Linked DNA regions of Homo sapiens. The protein of the gene in region 1 interacts with the protein of each later gene in a biochemical or structural test. Each region holds a gene or a part of one and is shown on either strand. Other genes may lie near its edges.

Region 1 (3,500 bases):
AACAGGAGACTTGCTCCAGCTGGTGGGAGGAAGGGGCAGTGAACCTGATGGTGCTTTTGGAGCTTCCCAGGGCCCTGAGGACGGCACCTCACCTCTGCAGGGAAGGGGGCAAATGTGGGCTGATGGACAGTGGCACTTCCACCAGACTCTTAAGTGTTCGACTATTTAGTGCATCTCAACTTTATTCCCTTGATGGAATGGGAGGCTCAAACTGCACAACATGGAATCTGGGGACTTTCCCTCCAAAGCACGTGTGGCCGGTCCTGTCCCTGAGAGGCCAGGCGTCATCAGAGTTCAGTATTTCCTGGGTTGATAAATACATGTAAAAAACGTTTCATAATACTTTCCCGGCTTATCCTGCATCCCACACGTGGCAGGACAGTAAATCTCAGTTCTGAAAACAACGCGGGTTGACAGGCCTGGGCTGACTTTCATAAGCAACAGCAACAGTAGACTATTACCGTGGTGGAAAACGCGGTGTAGGCTGTAAACGCTGAGTAAGTTAGTTATTGTTATCATTTCCTTAAAATCTTGTGATGTAACCTTGACCGCTACTACTATGAGAAAAGTGTTCAGCTTTCCATGTCCCATCTACCTCTTCCCTTCCTGAAAATATGAACAAGCGCGCACCATCCCTGGGAAGGAGAGTTTTAGGGCTCTATCATTTCTGCAGTGGCAATGAGCAACACCTGGAATAAAGAGCTTCACATTTGCCAGTTTTTCTACATTCAGTGTATACACAAAGCACCATGAATAATGCAGGTCAAATGATATGACTGAACATAGAATTAAACATGCTTTGTCAATTGTTTAGCAAATACTACAAATTTAATTATGCTAATGTTACATTTACCTTTACTGGAAATTTCAGCTGATTATATAATTCAGAAACTAGAAGATTATGACCAAGAGTCTTTCTCATCTTCATTATTCTGACGATAGCAGCATCAATCTGATATTGTCTATCCTGAAACACTCTCTCAGTGGTGCTAACCTGTTCCTCAACCTGTATAAAAAAGAAAAAAAAAGTTAAGTGTAAAACTGTATTTTCTTTTTATTTTTTGCGATGGAGTCTCACTCAGTTGCCTGGGCTAGAGTGCAATGGTGTGATCTCGGCTCACTGCAACCTCCGCCTCCCAGGATCAAGCGATTCTCTTGCCTCAGCCTCCCGAGTAGCTGGGATCACAGGCACCTGCTGTCATGCCCGGCTACTTTTTGTATTTTTGTACAGGCAGGGTTTCACTATGTTGGCCAGGCTGGTTTTGAACTCCTGACCTCAGATGATCCGCCCACCTTGGCCTCCCAAAGTGCTGGGATTACAGGTGTGAGCTACCACACCTGGCCTATATTTCAATATTAATGACCTGATGTTACCGAATTTGATGGGAAATGGTTTTTTTTTTTTTTTTGAGACGGAGTCTCACTCTGTCACCCAGGCTGGAGTGCAGTGGCGCGATCTCGGCTCACTACAAGCTCCGCCCCCCGGGTTCACGCCATTCTCCTGTCTCAGCCTCTCAAGTAGCTGGGACTACGGTGCCCCCCCACCATGCCCGGCTCATTTTTGTATTTTTAGTAGAGACAGGGTTTCACCATGTTAGCCAGGCTGGTCTCGATCTCCTGACCTCGTGATCCACCTGGCTCGGCCTCCCAAAGTGCTGGGATTACAGGCGTGAGCCACCGTGCCTGGCCGGAAATGTTCTTTTGATGCAAAGAAAGGTCAGACATTGGATGAATCCTACTTTATTATGCATGTTTACTTGTTGTAGTAAAAGGTACCTTCCCAGAATAGCAAAACTCCAAAACCAAAACTTAAAAAATATTTTTAAAAGTTATTTTCCTTATAAGAAAGCTGCAACAACTCTATGTGTGATGTAGATTAAAACTAGCAGCACAGTAAACAAAACATAATGACCATCAGGATATATTCCAGAAATGTTAAGTGTTGATCAACATTAGGAAATCTGTGAATATAAGTGAGAGCACTGTAGCAGTTGAAAGGTTAGATTACATGACCATCTTGATAGATGCTGAAAAGGCATGATAAAATTGATTTTTTGATTTAAAACAAACATTAGCATACAAGGATGAATAAAAAAGCATCTGAACATGATAAAACATGGTTATCAGAAACAAACAGCAAATACTAGAGACAACTTAACCTTAGTCCAACAGGAACCTGATGGGGATCTGCAGTTGAAATGAGGGCTGGGGGAAGGTCTGTGCATACATATGAGGCAAGTATGCTTCAGGATGGGAGAGACTCCAAGCTTTCATCACATTTTCAACAGGATCCATGACCCCCAAAAAGTTAACATCCTCTGAACTAGAGATAAAATTAGGAAGCTCAGCTGCACTGCTATTCCTTAAAAACATTACTTTAGAGGTTCTAACTATGCAATACAGGAACAGACTAAAGAGGTATATTGAAAAGGTGCAGACAAAACGATCATTATTTGTAGATGAGCTGGAAAATCCAAGAAAATCAACAGAAAAACTTTCAAAGCTAAAGAGTTTTGTAAAGTGGCTGGAAATAAAATAAATATACAAAGACAAATAGCATTAATACATACATTCTGATAAAAACCGTCAGAAATGTAAAGAAAAAAGGTCCCCTTTATAAGATATCAGCATTTCATTAGCCTGTCTTGCTTAAAACTCTAGTGGTTTTCCAAATGCTTCATGGATCTGAGCCATCTTCAGAGGGTCCAGCTGTGGCTCCCTGATCAGGCCTGTCTGGCTCAGCTTCCCCTTTTGGCAACGATGCTGCAGCCAGAGGCCTTCTTTCAGTTCCTGAGCAAAGCTAGTCACTTCTTCAGGAAAGCGTTGGCTGACGACAGTATTTAATTAGACTCTCCTGCACTTCTCTATCCTAACATTTTCCTCCACTCTTACAAGTTAGTCAATGTGTGTGATCCTCTGCTACCTCTCTGCTGGAAAAGACTGAACACTCCTAGAAACAAGGACTTATTCTTTATTGTTAATGGATGAATTCTCAGTGCTTCACAGAGGACCTGGGCCACCACAGATGCTCAATAAGTATTTGTTGAATGAATGAAAATTTATGACTAGCAAGAAATATGCAAGACTTACAGAAGAAAACTAGAAAGCTCTGAGAAAAAGATTTGTATGTATTTACATATATACACATATGTATGAATCACAAGATTTAATATGATAAAGATAAAAGCTCTGTAAATTAATGCAATATGGATTAAAAATGTCAATGTTCTTATTTGGGGGAGCAAAGGCGTGATACAATTATTGTCAAGTTCATTGGAAGAATAAAGTTATAGGAATAGCTACATTAATTAAAAGAACCTGGTGCCGGGCACGGTGGCTCACGGCTGTAATCCCAGCACTTTGGGGGGTCAAGGTAGGAAGACTGCTTGAGCCCAGGAGTTCAAGACCAGCCTGGGTAACATGGCAAGGCCTCATCTCTACAAAAAATACAAAAATTTAGCTGGGCGTGGTGGCATATGCCTGGGGCTGAGGTGGGAGGA
Region 2 (3,017 bases), on another chromosome or scaffold:
GTCAGGTAAGCTGTCAAATTGCTAGACTATATCTATGTGCCTACCCTCCACAGAGCAGGGATTTTTGTCTGTTTTATTAGGTTGCTGCAAAAGTCATTGCAGTTATGGCAAAAACCACAATACTTTTGCACCAACCTGATATATAGTAATTTTGCTGCTATCTTCAGCAATTAGAAAATAGCAGATAGGTGCTAAATAAACATTTGTTAAATGAATGAGTGAATGATCCTCTGCAGTTGATTTTAAATGCTAACTCTTCCATGAAGTCTTTCCCGAATCCTGATCCTTCCAAACAGATGGGTGACCGCCCTCCTCTGGGCTTTGCAGGACTTTGTACAAGTCTTAGATCTTTCCCACCTAGATTGGAAGCTCAGTTATTTTGGTTTTAGATTTTTTGTTGGTTTGTTTTTTACAGCTGGAAAGAATCTGAGAGACTAGTACAATTCCCTTGTCTTGATCATCCTGAGGCCCAGCGAGGTGAAGATGGTTGGCCAGCCCTCATTAGTGGCCAAGCTGAGACCTGTGTAAGGTGTGGCCTAACTCAGTGTCAGTGTCAGGCACCTGGGCTGTGGAGACAGAGCCTTTGGCTCAAATCCTGGTTCCAACAAGAACAAAAAAGAAAATAATTTTAAAAACATTCCCAAAAGTAGGAATCAAAAAAGCCAAATTCTCTAATTGGAAATTAAAAACTCATGAATCAAAAACCAGTTTCTTCTAACTAACCTGTGTTGAAGAGGAAACTTAATTGAAATTAGACTATTTGGAAATGAATAACAATAAAAAGCCCATATCCCAAAACTTATGAGATACAGCCAAAATAGTACTAGAGGAAAATGCATAGCCTTAAAGTGTTCCTATTAGAAAACAAGAACACTAAAAGGTATCTGAGCCAAGCAGTCAAATTAAGTATTACAGAGTTATTAAAGTAAACCAAAACAAGATAGAACAAAAGAAATATTAGAAAATAAGTTAGTGAAAATAAAGTTAAAGAAAAAACAGCACAGTTGCTCCATAATTACAACCAAGGATCAAGATGAGTGAACATCTGATAAGTTGAACAAACAAAATACAAAAATAACATGTTGACGGATAAAATTGTTTCAGAAATGTTATTCAGGATCCAGCCAAGCAAAGAGACTCTACACCAAGTTCGATAGAAGGCATTTAATACAATAAACTAATCACGAAGTGTTAGAAGAGCTGCAAGAGCAAGTAGGGTAGGTGAGACAATCCAGAGATGGCCTGTGCCAGGCAGCCAGCAGAGGAGACCATCCCTGGGTGAGGCTAGAGAACACAGGCCAATGAAACAGGGCAGTGTCCAGAAGACTGATAACATTTAAAACTGGGAAGACCCATGCCCAGGAGAAAAACTACTGACACCTCCCTCCCTCCCCACCACCAGTTGGCAATCCAGTCACTGGAGGCAGTCTTTAATAAACAGACATAGGGCTGGGTGCGGTGGCTCACGCCTGTAATCCCAGCACTTTGGGAGGCCAAGGTGGGTCAATCACCTGAGGTCAGGAGTTCGAGACCAGCCTGATGAACATGGAGAAACCCATCTCTACTAAAAATACAAAAATTAGCCGGGCATGGTGGCAGGCACCTGTAATCCCAGCTACTTGGGAGGCTGAGGCAGGAGAATTGCTTGAACCCAGGAGATGGAGGTTGCAGTGAGCCAAGCTCGCACCACTGTACTCTAGCCTGGGCAACAAGAATGAGACTGTGTCTCAAACAAAAATATATAAATAAATAAAATAAAATAAAAAAATAAACAAGACATAGCATTCACAGAAAATTTGAAGATGAACACAACTAAAGATCACCCAACAATTTAAGAAGGCCAATACCATGAAAGAAAGGAACCAAACTCAACAAACAAAATAGCCAATACCAGAGGAAATTGAGTTAATAGAGAAAAGAAATAGAAACTTTGAGAGAAAAATGGTTAATGAACTCAGAGAGGTAACAGAGATATGAAATCCATGACCCAAGAACAAGTGGTTATGAAAAGTAACCAATTAGAGAGATCATGGAAAAGAACTGGGATCAAAAATTTAGTAGCTGGGTCTTGAAATGCCAACATGAGGAGATGGAATTTAATCCTACTGTAATAAGAAGCCAGGGAAGAGTTTTATGCAGGATAGAGATGTGGAAGGTCATTCCAGCTGCTGTGTAAGGAAAGAAGTAGAAAGGGACAGAGTGGAAGTGGAGTGGCAGCTGATTAGGAGGCTCTCACAGTTGCTCGAGAGCTGCTGGTAGCTTGGACTAGGCTAGTGGGAGCAGAGATGGTGAAAATGGAGTGATTAAGGATGCAGTTTGGAAGTAGAATTATCTGGACCTGCATTTGTATTGGAGACGGGGGTCTCCCAGGCTTGTGGTTTGAACAACTGGGTGGGTAGTTGTGCCATTTACTGAAATGGGGAAGCTGAGGATGAAGGGGCTGGAGGGGAGTAACCAGAAGTTCAGTTTTGGGTGTGTTAAGTTTAACATAACCAAGAGCCTTCAGGTAGAAAGGCAGTTAGATATAGGTATCTGGGGTCAGAGGAGAGATCCAGGTATACAGATATTTGAGAGCTGTCAATGTATGAGTGGGATTTAGAGCCACGGAGGAGATGAGACCACCTAGGGAGGGGGTAGAAAGGAAAAGGATGTCAAGGAAGTCCAACATCAAGGAGCCGAGGGAGGCAGCACAGGCAGTAGAGAACACCAAGCAGAACTGCCAGAGTGCACAGTGGCATGGAAGCCAAGGGAACAGAACGCTTCAAGGAGAAAGAGGCCCACTGCGTCAAATGCTTCTGAGACACAGTAAGAACACAGACCCACCTACTGGATTTGGCACTACAAAAGGTGCTAGTGACCCTGACAGGAGTAGTTCAAGCAGATTAGAAGTGGGGGTAGTGGTTGTGGGGAGTCAGATTGGAGTGGGTTGTAGGGTCACTAGGAAGGGAGGAATCAGATGCAATGTATGTGGACCTAACAAGTCTGGCTATTTTAAAAGGACAGCTATGAAGGGAAGT
Region 3 (3,500 bases), on another chromosome or scaffold:
TTTAAAAAATAAAGTTCCAAATACTTTACTCATAAATATATTTAAGAAACAACTAGAATTAGTTGAGATTCAGTGGAAGCTGAATGTAAGCTAGAGTCTTCTTGCTAAGTTTTCCTAAAAACTTATAATTGATCAATATGTTCAAGAATATCACTTTAAAAATTCTTGCTTTTCCCAATTTTACCTGCTTTGAAAAACAAACTTTTAACTACTTCTGCTTTTAATTCCCAAATCTTCCAAAATATTTTATTTTTCCATAAATTAAAATGCTATGTCAACTGAGTGTGAAAACCTTGATTCTGTAGCTCAGCTTTAGCTTATTATTATGGATAAAATGTATACAGTGTTAACAGTTATGTAACTGACTCTGGCTTTTATTCCCATAGAAACTGAAAATGAATTACTAAAAGTGGTATATACTGATAAAAGAGTGCTTAAATTAAAACATCCCATATTTGGTAATCTGGCATCAGTTTCCAGAGATGTAAGAATAAAGTGACAGCTTGGCAGCTAAGCTGTTAGAAATTTTTTTATAGGTTTCAGCTTAGGCCTGCCAGCTATATTTCTAGTTGCTAATAATTCTGGCTCTATATTGAGTAAAATTCTTCCTTAGAAGAACCAAAGAAAACTATGAATAAATATCTTATTGGTTTTTATAATTACATGTATATAGTTTAAAGTACCGAGTAAACTGTAGATACATCTGCTGAAAATTACTATTATAAATACTAGCACATTCCATAGTTAGGGGAAAAAAGTTGACCATAAAGACTTATAATACTGAGAAAAAAATAGCATTTTAACAGAACGTAGAGGTTATTTTCACTAGCATCAAGTATCAAGAAGATAAGCATTTGGTAAAATAATTCTTTTTCATGTAAATACTAGAGAAACAAATTTTTTGGTAAATTATATGTTGTTGACAAAAGACCATATCAAATCCACCATAGAGAGTATATTAAAAGTACTGCATTATTTGAGGGAAATAATCAAGAATATAAGCAAAGTGAAACTAATACTGATATTTTCATAATCACTTTAATATAGACATAAAACCAAATAAATCTAGAAAGATATTTTGGTCTCTAATAATCTATAAAATAATATTTAAGTCAGGCACATTAAACTATGTCAAAACACTATCTTTTGGTACTTGTACTTTTAAAACAATTGTTTTATATAAATTGAAGATTCCTGCTATTTGTTAAAATTCATGCAAGTAAGACATAATTAATTTTTGTGTTTAAGTTACATAACCATATATTACATGTCATTTTGATCATTTATTCCAACAAGAAGTTGATGTGATTTAGTATCTTTCAAAATAGCCAGTAAAGAAATTTTCACTATCAAAAATCATTAGATGAACCACAGCATACTTATCCTCACCAGACTGATGATGTGTGTGGTGTCCAGATGCCTCAACAGACTGCCTTTGTTCACTGTCTGGAGAAGATAGCAAAGGAGTAGAATGAGGGCTTTCTGTGGGAGATGATGTCGAATGAGCCTGAGCTGACATTGTAGAGGATGTAGAAGGCTGAAGAAATTGTTCAGCTGGAGTATCTACTTCCATTGCAGTTTCACTCACTTCCAAATCAGGACTTGATGGGACCGTAGGAAGAGTTGAAATATCTGATTGACTTGTTCCACCTTCAAAACACATGTTAAGGCAAATTCAAATTTTAAATATTTTCTAAAACCAACAACTCTAAACAGATATGCTCAGAAAACACATTTATATTTACACACACAAATATATAATTTCAGTGATAATAACTACTGGTGATTTGGCCCATTTGACAAAATAGGCCAGTCAAGAGGGATAAAAACTTATCTACAACATATTCTTGTTAAAGCAATCAATCTTTCCTATTACATAAAACTTGTTTATACACAGAATTTTATATATTTCCATTCTCAGAGTGCATTAAAAAAAGGCTTAAAATAGGAAACCTCAGATTCTTCTACTTTACTTTGAGAAAAGCAAAAGATACGCACTAGGTCCAATGGCACCAGAAGGGACAAATTATATCCAATATCTTTTATTCTCTACTACTTCACACCACACAATAAGAACCTTGTGATTATTACAGATGTAAAACATGGTATAATTTACATGATAGAAATAAAAACTGGCTTCAATAAGTAGTTTTTGCCAGCTTTCTGATGACTTTAATTAACATTAAAAATTACCTCTGGGTCGAGATCTTCCTCGTCCTCTATTGCTTTGTGCAACCTCACTTGCTTCTTCAAACCATCTTGATAACATATCAGACATTCTCTGCATCAATGACACATTGGGACTCTGCTCTCCTATTACAATATAGGTCTTATCAGTGAGTTTAGTAATAAGTCAGAATCTTTCATTAATACAAAAACCTAGATTTGAAGGGCTTTAAAATGAAAGCATATTTTTAAAAATCAAATTTCCTAAATAAATTGTATGAATGTATATAAATCTATTAGAGCTCTCATCACATTTTATAGTAATTGTTTATATCAGTGACTTTCCATGTGTATGGTAAGGTTTCTTGAGAACAGGGCTCACCTCTCCTTCATCTTTGCCTATTCTTAGGTACCACTAAACCTCCCACTTCCTACCTCAACCTAAATTTTTAGTTCTAAGAGTACCCAGCCAAGAAAGGCTCATGAATTCTAAGTTTAATAGATTAAAAGAAAGGTTTTCCCTCTCCCTAAAGCATTATAATCAAGTACAGACACAAAATAGCCTTATGCTTTTGCATGAAGTTTCCTTAAAGTCAATTTATTTTCAACATCATTTACTGTAAGCAAATTTCAGATATTTGAAATTAACTGGAACCAGAAAGTATTTTGTCTCTTCCCTCACTCCTTTTCCTCCTGCAAGTAAACAAGTTTTTCCAAGGGTATTTTCAAATTAAAAGTGTAATGTCAAATTCAAAATGTGACAACTCTATTCTATAGTCTTATAATTTAAAATGAAAATCGGTTCTTCTTACATTTTCTGTGAAATCAGAGTTTCTTTTACACTTTATTGCCTTTATATAATGTAGCTCATATATTGGGGAATATGCTTTTGATCACAAGAGATGTTTCAGAAGTCATTATAGTAAGATTTTGGTTACAGACCAATTTAATAAAACATAATAATATAGAATTATAATTCATAGATTAATTCTATTTTCAAGTGTGCTATCTTAAAGCTCCCAGGGTTGATTCTTATGCTTATCAAAGGCACTTGATAGAAAACATTTTATGTGCTAATATAAAACCCTTGGGCTGAGTTTTCATTTCTCTTAATATCTAATAGAAAGGCAAAAACTGCAAAGTCTGACAATACCCAACGTACTATGGGGTAATGGGCATTCTTATACTTTCAGTGGGAATGTAAATTAGCACATCTTTTTTGGAGACTAATCTGATAACAACTACCAAAATTAAAAGGTACTTATCCAGTGACTGCGCCATTCCACTTCTAAGAATTTATCCTAAGATATATTTGCATAAGTATACCTATATGT
Region 4 (3,500 bases), on another chromosome or scaffold:
GATGCCTTGACCTCTGCTGTTACACTTAGTTCCTTTACCAGCCTTTTGAGGCCTGTGGTATTCTCATTTTACAGATGAAGAGACAGGGACACAGATTAACGACCCACGCAAAGTCATACGCTAGTGAGCCTAGGCAGGTCCTGCTCATCCTTTAGATGCCACTTTGGCCGCTTCTCCATTATGTACACACAGCACCATGACTCCCTTGGAGGTATTCATCACCGTGGGAACCTTTGCTCTTACTTTCATGATTGGATCCTGCTTCTGGCACTTGGTGGTGAGCTCCATGAGGGCAGGGGCAGTGTGTGCTGGGCTCACCTTTGTGTGCTTGTCACATAAGAAGCCACTCACCTTTTGTCAAGCAACTGATTATAAGAAGTAGAGCTGGGATTCAAACTCGGTTCCCTCTGTTACAAATAATCTGTATAAAATTATCTAAGATACTCTAAGATTGATTACATTCTATCCTTGCCTATCTAGTAGGTAGAGTAAGAAGAGGTCATTAGAAGTCATTGGGAAAATCAGGAATTAACTTGTTCATGTATCCATCCTTTTGTCATTTCTTTGGTTCTGTTTATTTTTCCCCCCAGTATCAATTGAGAATCTCTGACGGGAACAGCACTGATAGACTTGGAACCTAGAAAATGTGTCTGGTCAGGGATAGAAGAAGACAGCATTGTGCCACAGACTTGATTGTGAAGGCATGATCTGTTCTTTCACTAATTCTCAGTTTCATTTTGACCCTTCAGCAAATTCACAACCAAAATCAAGGTAGGGGAAGGGATGGCACACAGAGGAAAGTGCAGAAATATCATTTATATACCATGTATTCACTCTGAGTGGCCTAACTTTTTTGTTTTGTTTTTAACCCAATACATGTGTATTTTTAATTCCTCTGAAATTTGTGTTTTCTTAAGGATTTTTAGGTCTGTATTCATTCATAAAATAGATCTGTTCAAATGACCTTTTTCTATTCTTATTAGCACCACCAAATCAGTGTGTTTTTAATACTTAGATTCGCAAAATTTCTGGACATTTGGCAAAAGGCACAAGGCTGTCATGGAGCAGTTGCATGTCTTAGCAGTGAAAGGGACCAGGAGGTGGGAGGTGACGCTGGCAAGGCTTGTGCAGTGCCTCTACCGGCCTCTCTCTGGACCTCCCCTGCTTATCTCACACTTGACTGGGCCCTGCACTGCAGGGTGGGTAAAGGATAGAATTGCAAGCAGAAATTGTATTTGCTTTTGTTTAGTGAAGCCAAAAGCCTTAATATTATTTTTTGAGCTCAATGCAAATGGCAACTGACATGAGAGAGATTTTAAGAGCACCATAAGCATCTTTATAATCATGGGGGTGGAGGGCAATCCGGGAAGAGGGTGTGGGTGGGTGGGTGGCTGTGTGTACACATGCACTCTTTTTAAAGTTGTATTGTGTCTCTAACCTCTCCAAAAAAGACCAGAACCAATTAGAAAAAGGAAAAGGCCAACTTGACGCACAAAATTCTATATGCATGCCAAATATTGGAGTGAAAAACATGTAGCATTTGACTGAAAAGACACCAACCAACCATTAGATTTCTATGGTTGAACACTCTCAAGATCTTGCACTCCTGTATTTCATTTAAAAAATTACTCCCTGAAGTGCAAACTGACTTCAATTTTGAATAAAATTTAGCATTCAAATTTATAGCCACTTTGAAAACTGAGGGTTTATTTATATCATATGAACTTGAACAGATACTTAATTACAGCAACCCAGCAGCCCTTTGCACATGGAGAATCTGGATTTGGGAAAAAAAAAAACAAAAAAAAAAACTTCCCACGTAGGTTTTTCCACATTTTTCAGATGCTTTTGTAGCAGCCATCATTTATGGGAAATGGCATTAAAATCCTGCCGTAATGTAGTTTAAGTTTAAATTCAGTGCTTCCCAGAAGAGATTTTAGTGTATCCTATAAAGGCACTAAAAGGCTTATTTTTGTTTTTGTTTGTTTTTGTGGGGGGTGTTTTGTTCTCTTGAAAGTCTGGTTCTAATGAGAGAGATGTTGGTTCCTTGGAATGATCTTTGTGTGTTAACAACCTGTGCAAAGAACTCCTCTCTTGCTTGTTCTAGCGGGCAAAAGTCATCTTTGTTTGCGTGCAAGAAAAGGTCTGATTGAACTAGGGTGAGCCTTTCATTTTAAGCAGAGTTAAAGTCTGGGGTGTTTTTAATGTTTTAATCTCTGTTTAAGAGGTTTCTGTTATGAGAGGAAAATTGATAACATTTTTACCTCAGCAAACTGCCAGCAAACTGGCTCTGCTCTAATCCCACATTTATAGTGATTTATATTCTCCGTGGCAATGTGCTGTAACCTCAGAGTGATACCACTGCGGTGTAGATTGACTGCATTCCAAATGCTGGAATCACATACATAATGTTTTTACTTTTAAATAATATTCAGACACCAGAATAAATACCATATGTGCACTGATGCTGGTTACAATGGAACCTTGTCATTTCTTGTGAGGGAGAACATTCTTTGTTTCTGATTCCTGTTTGAAATAAGTATGCAAAAGATAAATATGTACATTGACAGCATTTTGAGAAGGCTCTGGTAGTTACACAGCTGAGGATGTAGCTATGATTCCTTGAAATGTATCATTTAAAACTAAAAATATTGCTGCATGTTGCCCCCATCCCTCACTACCATACATGAAGGCAAGGATTGTTATCTGACATTCCCAGAGTAGGGTAGAGCTTTTATATTTTATATCTACAGCAGGCTGTAGTAAGAGGACATCTGTTGAAGAAAAATTACCTCCGTGAGTACTGTTCATAGGAACAGTGAGACTAACATGCTGATGACATTGTAACAGGGAGAGTAACACACTTGATCATGGGAAAGGATGGATTGATTGGAAAGCCGTAATTCAGTGTGAGCCCTAATGTCATCTGATGCTACAAAAGCAGAATTTAGGTGGCCTAACATCATCAAAATACAGATAATTAATCTCTCCAGATCAATTTTCCCACATGATAAAAGTTAAGATTTAAACTTTTAATAAAGTTTAGAAACACCTCCCGAGTTATACATTTTTAGATTTTTGTTTTTATTCATCTTGATTGGAATTCAAATCCACTTAAACAGTATTTTTTAAATCAATTTGGTAGAATACCTTTCATATTTGTACATCTATACAAACTCCAACAAGTCGATCCACATTTGCTTCTTGGGGAAGCATTTTAATCCACGTTTGCATGATTACTATTTGTTTAGCTATATTGAATTAGTGCCCATAACATTTTAATAATATTTAGTAGATGATGAAACCCTGGGCATTGATACTGATGGCTTCCCAACCCCTCTGCACCTCTGTCCCCACCCAGTTTTGTGAGGTTTGCTCAGAATATATAGTGTGAGATGAATGTGTGAGTAATCCATCACAATTTATCTCTGACATTTCATCTGGCACATAGCTTGGTGGGGTAAGCCTTGCCTCCTTTGTAGAAGTGTTCCCTGTTATAA
Region 5 (3,500 bases), on another chromosome or scaffold:
TACATACAAACTTATACTTCTGCATGTATATACTACCTGAAATTTGCTTTTAGCTGTGTAAGTACATAGTTCAAATCAACTTCCAACCTAGACTTGATTATTAAGGGAGTCATTTAATTTTCTCTTTTCTCAGTATCCACCTTTCCACAGTACCGAAGAGTGCTATACATAGTCTGTGCTTAATACATTTCACAATAATTTTCTTAAAGTGTTATTCTTTATGTAGATTTAAAACAGCATGAAGTTGTCAAGACATCCTAGTAACTCAGAATTTTTGAGATGAGACCAGGTATACTAAGTAGGCTTCTGTAAAGGAAAGGTAACCAAATATGTTTTTCACATTTATGGCATAAATGCATTGCTCCTAGTGGCAAGGAGCAATGAGATTCTCCTTACCACATTCTCTTAAATAGCTCTTGCTGCCTCTATCTCCAATTAGGACCTTACAGAAAGATGACTAGGAATTTATATGTGCAAGGGGAATGAGTTAATGGTAATTCAGTGGAACTCTTTTTTAAAATGTTAGTAATAGTTTTAAAAGGCCTGAGTTGCCTCAAGTGATACTTTAATACTAATTTTTTTTCAAATGCATTTATGAGTAGAAAGAGACCTAACTAGAGCAATACAACAGCCATAGTGATTCTGACAAGAAAGCTCTGGAATTTGAATCCAGCTACTAGTGCTAGGGGCGGGGGGGGCGGGGCAGGGAGTTAAAATGAACAGACTGCTACCTATGGCACTTCCTGCTGAGCAATCTGTCAGGACCTCTCTATATGTTCCCACCAAGAACCACCAATTTAGGGTACTTGCTGCAAAACAGAAACAGACTACAAAAACATTTAGAAGTTTCCTTTTAACCTTCTAAAAACAAGGCCTTTATTTGATCTACCACAATCAAAAAGTGCTCCCCTCTTGGGTTAGTTGATCTCAGAGTTTACCTCGTCACAATTATAAGACTGATCTTCAGATAAGCCAGTTAGTGCTGCTCCCCTAAAAACTGTTCCTCAATTACAGGCTACACCTCCTAACCCAAACTAGCTACACTGTAAATACACAAACTCATCACCAATTAGCACAGAAACAACTGAGAGAACATGTGCATCAGTTAGTCACAACACCTGCTAACATGCAGGTCCTCACACTGTTGCTATTATTTCTGGGGAAAAATAATACACCACCAAGCAAACAGAGCTTGATGCTGGAGGACATACAATCCTATCCAGTTACTCTCAGGCACAGACTATTACAGCACATGCAGAATATTCAGAAAACAAAAGAAAACAAAACAAAAAATGTCTACTTACCTTAATCTTAGTACTAGACTGATTGGGATCTTGGTTTCTTGTGAACCTGATCCTGAAGACAAAGCCTAAAAAGCATTGAAAGGTATACAGTCATTGCCTGAAACATTAAGTGGGGAGGTGACTAATGGTCACTGGCAGAGGAATCATTTACTTGGCAGCAATTTTCTTCATCTCCAGCTGAGGTCATACTAATCCCCAGGACATTCCCTGCTGGAGGAGGACATGCACTCCAAGGCAGCAACAAAAGCTGAATGTCAGTTTAAGTCCAACACAATGAGAAAGAAAACTCTCAAGCCCAGATGAAATTTCACATATAGCCACATTTACATTTTATATTTCTGAGACCCCTGTTCCCCTCTACAAGACTGAAAAACACAAAGCTAGGTTTCTCATTTTTAAAAAATCTGCCAGTGCACCATATGGCAGTACAAAAGGTAGACCCTGAACCAGCTGCCCTTCAGAAATCCATCCAACCCATACATAGGTTCCAGTCTTTTTATGGCTAAACTAATCCTCTCTGAAAATTGTACAGCGCTTGCTTATGGGAGGACATGCATTCGATTTAAGTTGTTTATAAAATGAATCTAATTTTTCCATCAATTTTCCTAAGACAACTGTATCTTTTCCCATATGCCAAGCAGAAATGGAAAGCTTGAGGGATGCAAAGTTAAATGAAGTAAGTGCCATGACTAATTGGAAATGCTCAAAGCAGTGATCTCCAAAGGCAGAACACGAGATGATCTACTGGGGTGCAAAAGAAAAAAAAAAAAATCAGACCTTTAATTTATATTTCTTTTCATCTAAAACGTTAGACAAGAAAATGGAACTTCTAATATTTAATAAATGGACGTTGAAAGTCTTACTTTAACCATGTACCATAGGGCCACATGTTGTATGCAGTGTCTGAGGTTTATTGAAGGGAGAGAAGGAGTTACACAGCATGTAGCAGCCCACTACGGGGCCTTCATTCACTTGGCTGCTCTCAATGAAGTATGATTTAATAAAGTTTGTGTGCACCTGGATAAATGATTTACAGATTATAATACCCGGACTTAACAAACCAACCCTCACAAAATTGACAAATAACTTAAAAAGAGTAATAGAGAAAAACCACAGAAAACAAAGAGTATTAATAAAAAGTATAAGCCTGAGTGAACAACAACAACAAAAACAGTACAGCCATCGATTCTCCTAGTCTCTGTTGAACTTCATGAGCTGCATTCTGAAGTTAAATGTAATTATCTAATACAAAGCTGACAAGAAATTAGCCCAAAATTTTTGATGTTTGAAATATTTCCATCATTAACTTATTCTGTTGCTTAAAAACCTGCATGTGATCCTTGTAAAATTCTCTTACCTGTACATGCTTAAAAATGTGAAGACAGAATTTCTAACTTGTTTCAAAATCTACCAAGACATTAACCTGATTACATTAGGTTATATTCCACGTTAATATCTGCTCTTTTCATCTATCCAAAGGAGTGACCATGAAACCATATCCCCGGCTTTACCTGAGCTGTTTTTGCTGGCTCTGCGGTGGGTGGGAGAGAGACTTGAGTTGGCTGTGTAGCAATCTGCCCAGCTGGCTGAGGTAGATGAGCAGAGATCTGTTCTGGAACTTGGAGCAAAGTACCCACAGGATCAGTTGTTGGAAAGAGCTGTAACAAAAACACACACAGTGTTGCTTAAGTTGTGTGGAAAGGGAGGCAGGTCTGCTGACAGCAAGTTCAGCCTTTCAGGGTGATATTTTCAAAGTAGTTTTTGGGTAGTGTACAGGTTTTGTGTCTACTCCGAATATATCTATTCCAAACGGAAGTCAAATATTTCTAGGCTTTTAAACTTTTAACAACTCTGTGAGGTATAATTTATATTTCTCTACATTTACCCACTGTAACTGTACAATTTGGCGATTTTTGTACCATATATAGAATTGTGCAACCATCACCACAATCGTTTTAGAACACTTCCATCACCCCCAAAAAGTCCTCTCATGCCTATAGTTAGTTCCTGCTTCCACACCCAGCCATAGGCAACAACTGATCCTAATTTCTATAAATTTGCTTTTCTGGATATTTCATATAAATGGAATCATATAATATATAGTCTTTTGTGTCTGTCTTCAGTTTGCATTATATTTATCTTTAACAAAATCTATTCCATTCCTTTGCCCAGCAAAACAGCACCTCCAAAATACAG
Region 6 (2,767 bases), on another chromosome or scaffold:
TCCTAATGATAAGAATCCTCCTTTGTCTTGTTGGTAGAAATTATTAGGGTTGAATTACATTTTTTTCTTTCTGATTATGACATCAGATCTCAAGGATCATAAAGTTTAATTCACCTTGGTTCTACAGATTCGCTGATGTCAGAAGGCTGATCTGTGGTTTGAGAAAGACGGAAAAGAAACAGTTTCCAACCTCCAAACAAAACCCACAGAAAAGCCTGGTGGTGGAAGGTTCTAGGTAGAGAAAATCTAGACAATGACTGGACACAGTGGGCAAATGCCTACCTTTTGGAAATACAAACTCCACAGGGAACAATTTCCACAGAGAAGTTACATTAACTGAAGGTTGTCTTAGGACAAGGCTGAATAAAGTAAATATTTCAACACCATATGTTCAGCTTTGGCAGGAGATGTAGGTGGGAAGGGAATCTCAATTTTGGGGAATGCCCATATCACACCCCAGCTGGCTATGTAATCATGAAATAAGGAGAAACACATAAATATTTGGTTAAAACACCTTTAATGATAGAGGGAAAGACACTAATATCTCCCGTCTGTTCTTGACATTTTACTAGGTTAGGAAGCTCTGGAGCCTACAGCTTGAGGAGAAGCCATCGTTCAAGTCAGTCAATAGCAAAACCCTCACTCTCTCCTCCTCAGAACTCCTGTTCCAAATGATCCTATGTTAAGAGTAAATACTACAACTCATTACAAGACGGAGAGGCAGGGAGGACGCCACCTGGAGCTGGTCTCCCAAAGTCTGGGACTCTTAAGAACCAGACAATGACAAAGACACAAGCCCCAGCCTACGGATAGGCAAAATGGGTAGGGGTCTTGAAAGAGGAAGATAAGGAAAATACAAGGGGCCAGGGAATAAAGGAGGGAGTTATCTAAAACTAGAAGCATACTAGTGCTAGGAAATCCCCCATGATCCCTGGTACACCTCTGCACACTATGTCACTATTAGCCCAAAAGAATATTAACGAGAATGTCCAGACATTCACAAGAATTTGAGGCCTTTTCCCTTACATCATGTCCCTTTCTTAGTCACATAGGTACCAGCAAGCCCTATGTTCTAGCAACATTCCTTAACTCTCTCATCATTAGTTCATCAACCATGCTGACCAAAAATGCTCCTTAAAGATACGAACTTCACATTTCCCAAATATCTCCTGGGAGACCTCTTGGCAAGAAATCAGCTTGTTTCCCAACTTTGAGAGGTCATCATGAATGAGAAGCTGGAGAGGTCTTGGCACACTGACCAGCCAAAACCTTTACCTTAATGTGACCATCAGGGGATTTACTGGGAAAATTTTCCTATGCCCTTCCTTCATTTCTCCCTACTTCCTAGGGTTGGGTCACCAATTACTGGAGCATCTTCAGTACCGGCACCTTCTGGAGCAGGGGGAGGAAGAAGGAATGTACAGTTTGCTACTTCTTGTCTATGATGGGCTTCTCAGGCACTGCCTTGGGTGCAGGAGGCTGAAATAGGAGGGGGGCTGTCTTCTCCTTGGCTTCCCTGGATCCCATTGTTGGAGGCACCTTCCCAGCCACAGTTCCTAGGCCAAACAGCACTGGTGGGGCCAGGCTTGGAGTGGTAGTGGAGGTGGAGCTGGAATTCCAGGGCTTCATGGGCAGGCCATTTGACAGGAATGCCACATACTGGTTCTAGAAAGATAGGGGACCCATACCCACCAGCTGAGCAGAAAGGTCACCCCAGAGGAGTGGCACTGGGCCCTCCAGAGACAGCTGCCAGCCCTTTTTGGCTAGGCTGCAATGCCAAATGTAGGTGCTCAGGTGCACCTACCAAAGGGAAAGGGAGAGGAGAGAGGAGGGGGAAGAAGGGTCACACCAGGGAAGCTGGAGAGGGTTCCCCTTGAGAAAGCTGCAGAGAATCTATGTTCCTCAGGTACAAAGAATGAGGAGGGAAGAAAAATTCCTTAGGGGGCCATCCCCTTGTAAGCACAGTAATTTCCAAGCTCAGGGACTACAGAAAAGCCACTAGGGACATAACATGTTAAGAACTTAGAGAAAAAGACAAAATCAGGGCTCATAACTCTGGGAGGTCCTTTTGTGAAGCTGTTTCTGCTCTGTGGGACAAAGAGCAGCAGGTACAGAAAAACAGGCTCATGGGATCGTGGGGTCATCTTTTCGGGGAAAGGGGGAGAGCCCTGTGGAGGTGATGGAAGGCGAACAGCCAGGGACTAGAGAAAGAGCAGCAATATTCTGAGGGCCATGGGGGGCAAAGGGCTGTACCTGGTGGTGTGCCAGGAGCATATGCTTCTTGAGGGTAGCCCGCTCAAGAAAGCCCTGCCTGCAGAAAACACAAGTGAAGAGCGGCCCCTCCTTGGGGTGGGTCTTCTGATGCTCCTCCAGAGCTGCCTGGGAGGGAAAGGCCTGGCCACACACTTCGCAGGCCTTTCTGCTGCTGCTCTCTCCTGGCTCCTTTCTCATTGCCTCCTGCAGGCTCAGCTCCTCTACCAAGGTCACGCTGGTGGCTTCCCCTTCTGGGGTGAGTGCTGATGCCGGACTTGAGCTTCTCTCCGGTTTGCCCCCCTCTTCCTTGCCTCCTAAAACACCACTGCTTCCCTGCTCCATTGGCTGAGGCTGATCCAGGCTGTCAGGTGGTGGTGGTGGTGGCAAAGAAGACTGTTGAGTAGTTTTCTCATTACTGTCCATCTCCTTCCCAGCTGTGGCTGCTGCCGCCACTGTCCCCACCTCCTCCTCTGCCCCAGATGCCTCTTCTGAATCACCTCTCACTGATATTGCC
Region 7 (3,975 bases), on another chromosome or scaffold:
CAGTGTGGATTTTTCAAGATGGCATAGTACTCTATTGCATAAATATGCTGTAATTTATTCAACAAATTTTCTATGCTTAAACATTTAGGTTATTTCATTTTTTCTATCAAATATGTTATGATAAAAATCTTTTGAAAGTTTTAAAATTTATTCTTTAAGATGATAGGCATAGAATTGTTGGGTGAGAAAATATGAAACTTACTAAGGCTTTTGGATGTATCTCCCTAAATGACTTCCAGAAAAGGCTATGCCAATGTATATTCCCTCCAGCAAAGTATAACAATTCCTGTCTCCTTGTGTCATCAAACATGGGCATTATCAATTTTTAAAATCTGTGCCAATTTGGAAGGCAAAAATACCATAGTTGTTTTAATATGCATTTCTTGTCTTGGCTTACATTTGTTTAATTCCTTTAATAGTAGGTCAACATTATAAACAGGGTTGTACTAGAATGTGTGCCATACAGTGAATTAGAAAAATACACAAAAGATTACTGGACATCTTATACAAGTGAAATCATTTATTTATCTATTCATTTTCATTTATTCCATTTATTGAGTGCTTTTCTATACTGTGGATAGTTCTGAGTACTGGTGAAATAAAAGCAAAAACACACAGTCCCTGCTCTCAAGGAGCTCACAGTTAAGAAAACAGATATGTAAGTATGCTACTGTAATATGGTGTTATCAGCACTCTAATAAAAGTATATACAAGGTTAGTAGTGTCTCCATGATGGGTAAGGAAAGGGTGTTTCTTTAAAAATAATCAGACCCAGAATAAGGGGGGAAACCCTCCATGTCTACAGGATGCAGTAGAGATCTTGGGCATTCCAGAGACAAAGAAAGGTGCTGCAACTTCTGGACATAAAGAAGTTCCAATAAATCCAATCTTACATCATAAAGACTAAGCTTACCATCACCAATTCATACATTGGAAGTTCAAGAACCAGATTTCCCTTATTCAGTTGGTGGTCTGTCATCTTTTTTCCAATTATTTTGTAACATTGGACTAGTCAACATACCATCTTATGACCAAATTTAAAACAAATTACTGGTTAAGGAAAAAAATGACTCATTAGTAAGTAAAGTGACAAGCAGAACAAATGAACCATCCATCCTTCAGGAAACTTTTTTAAAAAAAGATTTTCTGCATGGTTTATCTTGTGGTTTGCTTCTTCTGACAAGGCAGCAACCTTAGAAATGATATCAGCATGAAAAGTTCATGACTTATTCACCTGTGACATAACTTTGGAGTCTCATGGGAGTTCCAAAGTTTTTCTCCTGATCATGAGATTTGGTGGCTTCACATATTTACTTCCCCCCCCCCCCCGCCACCCCTGTGTTAACAGGTTTACTGGCAGATGCAGGAGGTGACATTCCAGTGGCTCCATTATTTTCATTAGTCAATATCATTTATTCTTTGTCATTAAACAAATATTTGGAACCCACTACATTCAAAGCATAGCATTAGGTTTTACTTAGCATTTTACAAACACTTTTAAGTACAATATCAATATGCACATCAATCTTACCTCTACCTCACAGAAGAGGAAAAAGGGAGCTCAAGTTATCTTCTCAAGGTCACATAGTCACTAAGAAGCAAAGGACTCTGAACACAGATCTCTGAACTCCAAACCCAGGGCTCTTTCCAGCCTTCCTTACTAGTCTCCCTGTCCTCAGATTTTCCTGCTGCCTAATTAATGTTCTTAAAACACCAAAGTAGCCCCAGCCTTCATCGCGTCTCATCTGCTCTGAAAATCCACTTTGACTATTTCAGTCCACAGAACTCACTCTCCTCTGAACTCCTATAGCTTATTGTCATATTATTCAACTGGCACTAACTCAGAAAATGCTTAGTGAGATCTGTCTTTAATTATGAAATAATTTTAGTGTCTATTTAGAAGACACTGTGCCCGGTTATGTGAGACTGCTCCAGTACTACTTAAACGTAAGTTTTATTCAGTTCTGCAAATGCTTTTGACAACCTACCATGAGTCAGGCACCATGCTGAGAGCTGAAGACATGGTTTCTGCCCTCAAGAATCTCAGTCTAATGGGAATGTGGATATGTAAACGTTTTACAGACATATGTGTACAATTGGTCATTCATTCATTAATTCAGTAAGCAAACTCAATTTGCAGGCCATGAGAGATAAGTAAAATACGGTCCATTTCTTTTAAGTAACTTGCAGTCTAGGATCAAAGAGAGACGTGAATTTTTTCATTCATTAAATACCTATTATGTGGTGGAAACAAGTGAGGAACACCTATGAATAACATGGTCTCTGTTCACAGAGCTGTTTCCTTTTTAAGGATCATAATCTTCAAAGGTAGAAACTAACAACTACACTGTTTTATCCTGTGTAATAAGAGGGCATAGCAAAGCCTGGGCCTATGGATATTTATTGGATATTGATTCATTCCTTCATTCTTGTATCTACTCCAAGTCTCTCTTGGTAGTTCTTACATATCATCCTTTTTTAGACCAGCTCTAGATAATGAATCTAAGATAGAATTATCATAAACCTTATAGTTCTAGTGTAAGTATTTCCAAAGATACTTGGAATATTTTTCATGTTATTCCAAACACCAACCACTTCTTGGCTTTTTATAGAGAGAATAAAATAGAAATTCCTAAATAGAAATTCAGTTTTCTCACTCTATTACTTTGTTCACATGTTTGATGTCAAGGTGCAAATGTGCAAGTAGTGGTTTTTAAAACCTGCTATTCAGAGAGCAAGGAGTTCCTTTGAGGTTTTTCAGAAATAATACTAGCAGCGAGGAAGACAGGGAGCTTCCCACTTAACCAGAGTATTTTAGCTTTCTGTTTTAAATACTGTGCTTCTAGGTAAAACTTATTTTGCAATAGGGTCCTGCTACTTAATTAAAAAAAAACTGATTTAAGAGACTCAATGTAATAAGACATCATAGAATTTTGGCTTTTTATTTTTTAATATTTCTCTTTTTTAAAAATAGAGTCCTTCCTATGAAGTCAAACCAATCCACTTTTAAAGACAGCCATAGTAGCTATGTTACTGAGCATTTATTACTTGGTGCCAACTACACTGTAAATTGATCATTTAGTCATATTTAGCATCCATTTAATGAACCATTTCACTATACTGCCTACAAAGAAAGCAAGTAATACAAATCAGTGTGCATCATTGACATTACAGATTAATTTCCTAAGAGATTTGCATTTCTAAATATGTCTATGTAGACAGAAGAAATAAGACCTGGTGTTCGATATATCAGTAGGATGACTGATCTATTAACACTAAACTATTGTACATTTCAAAATAGCTAAAGAGAATTCGAATGTTCCTAGTGTAAAGAAAACATAAATATTTAAGGTGATGGATATCCCAATTATCTTCATTTAATTATATGAATATATCATACTATCACATGTACCCCCCAAATAAATACATTATGTATCAATGAATTTTAATTATATGAATATATCATACTATCACATGTACCCCCAAATAAATACATCATGTATCAATGAATTTTAATTATATGAATATATCATATTATCACATGTACCCCCCAAATAAATACATCTATTATGTATCAATGAAAAAAATGTATCTGAGTGGTTCAATTTTTCCATTTGACTCTACTATATATAACACTTATTGAACACAAGTCCATCCTATGAGGTTCAATTGATGTTTTTCCAGATAGCAAAGAGTAACTAATATTTACTGCCTGTATTTCATTTCATCCTCAAAATAATGCTATTAGATAAGGACTATTATTATCCTCATGTTACAGACAAGGAAATGAAAGAACTAGCACACAGAAATAGGTACCCTAAAAGGACTAGGGGTGCAAGAGGACCATGTATGGGAAAACTTTCCAGGTGAAAAGCAGGAAAAAGAACCTCATTCCAGAAGGTTCCATTTCATGTCAAACTTCTCAAACTGACGTAAGCCAGATAGAGAGAACCTCCCAATTTCCACATCTATGTC

Evidence for each region.
Region 2: of the proteins of CUL4A (region 1) and CENPA, one has a biochemical effect on the other in vitro, tested with the Homo sapiens proteins (one study listed by BioGRID).
Region 3: the proteins of CUL4A (region 1) and DCAF6 form a complex in vitro, tested with the Homo sapiens proteins (one study listed by BioGRID).
Region 4: of the proteins of CUL4A (region 1) and ST7, one has a biochemical effect on the other in vitro, tested with the Homo sapiens proteins (one study listed by BioGRID).
Region 5: the proteins of CUL4A (region 1) and OXSR1 interact in a test that uses a peptide from one of them, tested with the Homo sapiens proteins (one study listed by BioGRID).
Region 6: the proteins of CUL4A (region 1) and SALL2 form a complex in vitro, tested with the Homo sapiens proteins (one study listed by BioGRID).
Region 7: the proteins of CUL4A (region 1) and DCUN1D5 form a complex in vitro, tested with the Homo sapiens proteins (one study listed by BioGRID).

The regions. Positions count from the first base shown.
Region 1 is NC_000013.11:113,258,113-113,261,612, reverse strand, and holds part of CUL4A (cullin-4A), read right to left. Parts: intron 1,007-3,500; coding exon 854-1,006; intron 1-853. UniProt on the Homo sapiens protein: Core component of multiple cullin-RING-based E3 ubiquitin-protein ligase complexes which mediate the ubiquitination of target proteins. As a scaffold protein may contribute to catalysis through positioning of the substrate and the ubiquitin-conjugating enzyme.
Region 2 is NC_000002.12:26,789,056-26,792,072, reverse strand, and holds part of CENPA (histone H3-like centromeric protein A), read right to left. Parts: intron 1-3,017. UniProt on the Homo sapiens protein: Histone H3-like nucleosomal protein that is specifically found in centromeric nucleosomes. Replaces conventional H3 in the nucleosome core of centromeric chromatin that serves as an assembly site for the inner kinetochore.
Region 3 is NC_000001.11:168,002,683-168,006,182, reverse strand, and holds part of DCAF6 (DDB1- and CUL4-associated factor 6), read right to left. Parts: intron 2,314-3,500; coding exon 2,194-2,313; intron 1,651-2,193; coding exon 1,390-1,650; intron 1-1,389. UniProt on the Homo sapiens protein: Ligand-dependent coactivator of nuclear receptors. Enhance transcriptional activity of the nuclear receptors NR3C1 and AR. May function as a substrate receptor for CUL4-DDB1 E3 ubiquitin-protein ligase complex.
Region 4 is NC_000007.14:117,215,501-117,219,000, forward strand, and holds part of ST7 (suppressor of tumorigenicity 7 protein), read left to right. Parts: intron 1-3,500. UniProt on the Homo sapiens protein: May act as a tumor suppressor.
Region 5 is NC_000003.12:38,245,537-38,249,036, reverse strand, and holds part of OXSR1 (serine/threonine-protein kinase OSR1), read right to left. Parts: intron 2,963-3,500; coding exon 2,816-2,962; intron 1,370-2,815; coding exon 1,305-1,369; intron 1-1,304. UniProt on the Homo sapiens protein: Effector serine/threonine-protein kinase component of the WNK-SPAK/OSR1 kinase cascade, which is involved in various processes, such as ion transport, response to hypertonic stress and blood pressure.
Region 6 is NC_000014.9:21,520,580-21,523,346, forward strand, and holds the end of SALL2 (sal-like protein 2), read right to left. Parts: coding exon 2,125-2,767; 3' UTR 1,666-2,124; coding exon of another isoform or gene 1,429-1,665; 3' UTR 501-1,428; downstream 1-500. UniProt on the Homo sapiens protein: Probable transcription factor that plays a role in eye development before, during, and after optic fissure closure.
Region 7 is NC_000011.10:103,050,186-103,054,160, forward strand, and holds the end of DCUN1D5 (DCN1-like protein 5), read right to left. Parts: 3' UTR 501-3,975; downstream 1-500. UniProt on the Homo sapiens protein: Contributes to the neddylation of all cullins by transferring NEDD8 from N-terminally acetylated NEDD8-conjugating E2s enzyme to different cullin C-terminal domain-RBX complexes which is necessary for the activation of cullin-RING E3 ubiquitin ligases (CRLs).